Linked DNA regions of Homo sapiens: region 2 is linked to region 1. Evidence: fine-mapped expression QTL. A gene starts in region 1. The other region holds a variant in brackets. All regions are shown on one strand. Distances are from middle to middle. Region 1 holds the start of RAB4A-AS1 (RAB4A antisense RNA 1). Region 2 overlaps CCSAP (centriole, cilia and spindle associated protein).

Evidence for each region. PIP is the estimated chance that this variant, and not a neighbour inherited with it, causes the effect.
Region 2: its variant is the best candidate, but not a certain one, in a credible set for the expression of RAB4A-AS1 in skeletal muscle (GTEx, PIP 0.80).

Annotation. Positions count from the first base shown.
Region 1 is chr1:229,269,808-229,272,716 of GRCh38, reverse strand. It overlaps RAB4A-AS1 (RAB4A antisense RNA 1), which reads left to right and starts at 1,563. Exons shown (of 2, transcript NR_149313.1): 1 at 1,563-1,741. It overlaps RAB4A (RAB4A, member RAS oncogene family), which reads right to left and starts at 1,606. Exons shown (of 8, transcript NM_004578.4): 1 at 1,347-1,606. The coding sequence starts at 1,377. RefSeq lists silencers at 1,065-1,224, 1,265-1,794.
Region 2 is chr1:229,324,836-229,327,744 of GRCh38, reverse strand. CCSAP (centriole, cilia and spindle associated protein) reads left to right here. Exons shown (of 4, transcript NM_145257.5): 3 at 739-1,007; 4 at 2,334-2,909. The coding sequence ends at 2,510. Among named protein-coding and RNA genes, the nearest start is that of CCSAP, 17 kb to the left of the region's middle. The variant T/G (reference allele first, on the strand shown) is at 1,610.

The DNA.
Region 1 (2,909 bases):
CCTCTCCTCTCTGCCTCCTCATCCACCTCTCCAGCGTGGTACTCAAAACACACCCTTCTTGAGTTACCCTTCCCACAGGCCTGAGATGTTCTGCGTGCTGCCTGGTTAATGCCTCCCTGACACCCCTGTCTGGGTCATCTTTCTTTCTAACACACTTTCACGGACCACACTCCTTCAGAACTCTTGCCTGGTTTTTAATTATTCACTCATTAGTATCACAATTGGATTAATACTGCATTCCCTCAATAGACTACGCTCCATGAGACCAGAGCCGTGTCTGCTGTGTTTCTGCAGGATGTACAGCCCTCCCAGCACGGTGCTCGCTTCCCTAATGCCATTCCACAGTATTTGTTGCAGAGAAGGAAGCAGCATGCCAGGACAGATGGAGACAGGACTAATTTGGCTTGAGGTATGTAATTTTGAACTTGAGCCTCTCTCTGGGACTGTAAAACTCCAAATCAAAGTCTTAATCTGAGAATACATACATCTGAAAGAGTGATTAGGGACTGGTAAACATCTATTAATATTCAACTCTGATACAAAGTACAAGTTGTTTATTCTTACCACGCAAGGCCAAAAAAGGGGAGAAAAAAAAAAAAGCACACAGCATATGCACTGGGAAAGCTTTCGCTTATTCAAAACAGTATTTGTCAAGCACCTCCAGGTCTGGGTGCTGCAGGGGAAACAAAGATTAAACAGCCAGGGCTTTGCTTCCAAGGTGCTTACGGTCTTAAGAAGGAGACAAGACATGTTTATAAATAGCCAAAATGCAACCCAGAAAAGGCTAAAAAACACTGAGAGGGAGGGAGAAATAAACGAAGCAAGAGGTCTCCGGAGGAAGAGATGAATGAATTAGCCTATTAATAACTCCTCACTGTAATCCCAATGTAAAGCAAGGAATTCCAAACCAGGAAAGGTCAAACTGAAGTATTTGAGGAACACAGGCGTCGCCCTAAGCCCTTCACAGGCTCGCTGGGGATAATATCGCAGCTGAAACCGAACATCAAGCTGGCTTTTCAAACCTTCAGTTATTTACATTAGACTGAGAGGGGAAAAGCGCTAAGAGTGCAAGAGCAGAGAAAGAGCAAGAGGAAACTTGAAAAGGCGGATCACGCCAATGCGCTGTGCACAGCGCCCCCGCGCCCCGCGCACCCGCTACCCCACCCGAGCCCCCAGCGGCCCGCGTCCCCCATCCCGGTCCCAAGCCCAGACACCTCCGAGATCCGTCCCCCGGCTCCGGCCGGCGCCACCGCCACCCTCAAGACCCCCGCAGCCCAGGCCCGGCCCCGCGCCACCGACGCCCCCCGCGGCCCGACCCGCGCGCCCCGCCAGCCCGGGCCTCGTACCGTAGGTTTCGGACATGGCCGTCTGCGACATCTTGGGAGCGGCGCCGCCTCTCGCCGGGTCACCGGCTGCACTCGCCCGCGGTCCGCCGGCGCGTCTCGGTGGGGAAGGACCTGGGGCGGGGGACCGGAGGAGGGAGGGGCCCGACCGGTCCCCACGGCAACCGCCGGTCTCCCAGCGGCTGCGGCCCAGCCGGACTCCAGCTCCGCGCAGGCGCAGGGCCCTCCACCCTCCGTCCGGCCGCGACCGCGAGGAGGAAGAGGAGATGGGCTACGCGAGGCCCGGCCCACCCCGCGTTCGCGCGTGCGCACGGGGAGGCCGGGGCGGGGCGCGTGAGGACTTCGGCGCGCGCCGGAAGCACGTGCGCGGGCTGGGCGCTCTGGCGGTGTGCGCTGAGGTGGGCAGAGCGGCAGGTGGGGGCGTTGGGGGCTGAGTCCCGATTTCCCTGAGGGAGGGTCGGGTAGAGGCGGGCGGTGGGCAGGTTTGGGGGTGACAGAGGGCTGGGGACAGTGGGGTCCAGTTGCCGGACAGAGGAGGAAGGTGCCCGCACTGGGGAGGAAAGCAGTCCATTTGCCAAATTGGCCCGTCTCAGTTAAGACGTTGTCTTCGGTCATCATCTGCGGCTGTCAGCCAGGAAAAAACTTCCCTGACGCTGTTACGATGGAGGCCAGAACTTGGTTAATGTGTAACAAGGAGGCAGTAGGCCCCAGGTGTCCAGCCAGAGGCCGCCCTGTGAATGGGAGGCAGGTTCATTTACCCGTTGGGAAGCTAAGCTTTCACTCCAAACTGCCGGGCCCTCTTGGATGGAGCTGAGCGGGTGTGGGCGGAATGACAGAAGCGCAAGATGCCCAGGTGCTAAAAGGTCATCGCAAGACTACAGGCTGCAGCCTCTCCACATCCCATTTTAGAGGGTTCTGGATTACGGTTGAGAAGTATCTCCCGGCCCTCAGCTGGGGATGTGTTTCCAAATTTAGGAGTTTTTTTAATTTTTATTTTTTAACAGGGTCTGGCACTGTCAGCCCAGCCCAACCGATTCTCCTGCCTCAGCCTCCTGAGTAGCTGGGGCTAGGGGCTCACACGACCACACCGCGCCAATTTTTAAATTTTTTGTAGAGATGGGGTCTTGTTATGTTGCCCAGGCTGGTCTTGAACTCCTGAGTTCAAGCATCCTCCCTCCTTGGCCTCCCAAATTGCTGGGATTACAGGCATGAGTCATCTCACCTGGCCTTGGATAGTTTGGTTTCAGAAGCAAAACTGAGTTAGAATCCCCTTCTGTGGGAAATGTAGAGATAAACATTTATGGGAAAGAGAATTTTGGTTGAGGATTTGGCCCATCTGAGCTTGATCAGGGCCACATAGCGCCTCATAGTTCCCAACCTTGTTCACAATAGGTAGTCGAATGCTCAAAATATCCTTGGCTAAGCTCCCAAGTGACCTGGACTGTGTGGAAAATGCCAGTACATACTTTTGTGTGTGTGTGTGTGAGTCAGTTTGGCTCCATCCTCCACATAAATTGGCATCAGAGCTTCCCTCTTCCCCAGTGGCTATTTGGGTCGGTATTTTTC
Region 2 (2,909 bases), 55 kb before region 1:
GGCATGCACCACCATGCCTAATTTTTTTTTTTGTATTTTAGTAGAGACGGGGTTTCACCATGTTGGCCAGGATGGTCTCGATCTCCTGACCTCGTGATCCGCTCGCCTCGGCCTCCCAAAGTGCTGGGATTACAGGTGTGAGCCACCGCACCCGGCCGGGGCCCTCATTTTTAACTCTTCCCACAGGGAATGCCTGGCTGCGCACCTAGGCGGTAACGATGGAAATCACTCCCTGTTGTGCGGAGGGGCTTTTGAATGAAGGAAGCGGCTCTCAGGAGGAGCACGGAAGGACTAAGGAGCATTTTCGGGTGGAGTAACTCAAACAGCAACCTCCTGCAGCTGCTGGAGGATGACCACAAATCCAGATCTTTCCGTGAAGGAAAGCAAAATTGAGATGATTGGATTTATCTTGGGGGATTGCGGAGAAAGCCCTTAGGGTGTGGTGCTGTCTATCTTTTAACATTCCAGATGCTAAGTCTCAGAATCGGAGTAGCAGTGGTTGCTTTTGAATAAGCTTGGTTCAATCTTGGTATATTTGTTGTTGATTTTAAAATGAGATAAATGGTTTGAAAATTATGCTAACTTGTTCCTGTATTTCTACTTTAAGTGGATCGTATGAGTTGAGCCATAAGTGAAAATGTTACTGTCTTAAGCATTATGATTTTTCAACATAAATATTTTAATTATATATAAATCTGATTTCAAAGTATTTTCATCTCATTTATCTCTTTTCAAAAGCACTGCCAGTGAAAGATGTAGAAGATAAACCTGAACAACAAACCAGAACAAGAGAGACTGACAAATCACCCACCAGTACTGAGCCTCGACAGCAACCAAGTGCCTTATTTGCTAGAGGAAACAGGAAAGCGGTCAAAAGTCCCCAAAGATCATCGAGTAAAATAAAAGAAAACAAGCATCCATTTGCTCTTTATGGCTGGGGAGAAAAACAGACCGATACAGGAAGCCAGAAGACTCACAACGTCTGTGCGTCCGCTCCTGTGCACGAGGTGCGCTCTGGGCCCTTGTGGTTCTGTGTTCCCTTTGAGAGTGGCCAGCTGGGCCATGCGCCTGTCATCGGGCATCGTGTCCTTTGGCCACTGGGTGCTTTGGGCCCATGGGAGATCTTAGGGGATAGCATGGTGGGTTGGGGAACTCCAGAATGGAGCCTCTGATGAACCAAAGGAGGATTCTGCATGTTGGTGGCCTGCAGAGCGAGGGGTTTTGGCTTGGAGTTACCCAGAAGAGTTTAGTGACACCAAGCCAGGCAAAGATGTAGATGGAGTTGGGGTTCACAAGTTCCTGGGGGGCCGGAAGGTTAGGAGGAGCAGCACAGCCAAGGCTGGCGACGGCCCATCTGGATTTGCCACTGGTCTCTTGAGCTGTTTCAGCTTCCTTCAGCTTCGATAACCTGGCGCTTCTTTATCTTTGGTTTGTCTGATTGATTGATTGCTTGGCATCTGCCAGAGACTCCCTTTTGTTCCTCTGATTAAATTCAAATGGCTGCATTTCCCCTGTTCATCCATAACAAATGCATTTTACTCTCAGGAGCTTTAGTCCTCCCCTGACTTAGCCTTAGCTTGTCTCTCCTGTGTCAAGACCCGGAAACATT[T/G]CAGATGAGAGGACCTTCATGTGTGTAGTCAGAAAACATGTATGTTAGCGTTAATACTGTTATGATAGCCTAAAGCAAAGGCTGCGTTTAAGGAAGCAGAAAGTGAAACTGCAAACTGCTTGAGTTCTAGATAAACAGCATAATGAAAATTTCACTGAACAGACATCTGAACCCTAGCAAATGGTGTTATTTGGAGTGATATTTGAGACAACAAAGCTGCCGTTTAACAAAAGATCTCTAAGAAGTCCGTGGGATTAATTTTAACAGGATTTATCTGTAGTATAAGACATCTTAGGTGGTAAAATCTCGAGATGTCTTTGGTATACTGATGTTAAACATTTAAAGTTCTTTTATTTTCCCTGCTTTTTATGAGCTGTTTATAAGTCGTTAATTAAATACTTATGTTTAATGCTAAGCAGTTCGGACAGTTTTCCAGAGCCAACTCTAGAGGCACATGCAAATTAGTTGCTTACCATTTCTGTCTAACATTTAATTTGCTGTTGCTTAGTTTCATTATCCCTGATATGAATCAAGTGAGAACAGCATCAAGTGAGAATGGCTCTTCTGTGGAAGGTTTTATGTAAAGAAGAACTATATAGAGAGGCAGGGCTTGACTCTGCCCTGCTGCAGTTGACCTGGCAGTAGCCAGCTTCATTGCAACCTCTGTTGAACATTAGTATAATAGCCCCTTAAGTTACTATCCTTTATTTTGAACTCTCTTTAGATTCATGAATCAGCATTACGAGCCAAGAACAGAAGACAGGTGGAAAAAAGGAAACTGGTTGCTCAAAGGCAGCGAGCTCACTCTGTGGATGTGGAGAAGAACAGAAAGATGAAGGCTTCCTCCTCAGAGAACCCGTGGATGACAGAATACATGAGGTGCTATTCGGCAAGAGCTTAAAGAAACACTTGCGTGGACAGCCTCTTTTAAAAAGTGTAAATGACTGAAAGGAAAAACAAAACAAAAACCATCAAAAGAAACGGACACAGGTTTAAGAAACCAACTGATTATGCAAGGTTTTTTTTAGGGAATTTGTAAAAGATTGTTTTATTTTGATGAATATTGGTCACCTACCTCGGCAGTAGGGCAGACAGTTGAAGCCATAGACATTTGGTTATTTATGAAGATAATTCCCTAAATCTTTGATATTCTTATAAGGTTTTTGTTTTAAAGCATCTTAATCTTTTAAGATACTGACACCAAATGCCTTTAAATGGCAACAGATGCTTACAGTTCAGTATTCTTTTCATAAGCTTAGGTAGAGCCTATTATCATCTTGTTCTAAATAACTTTCCAGAT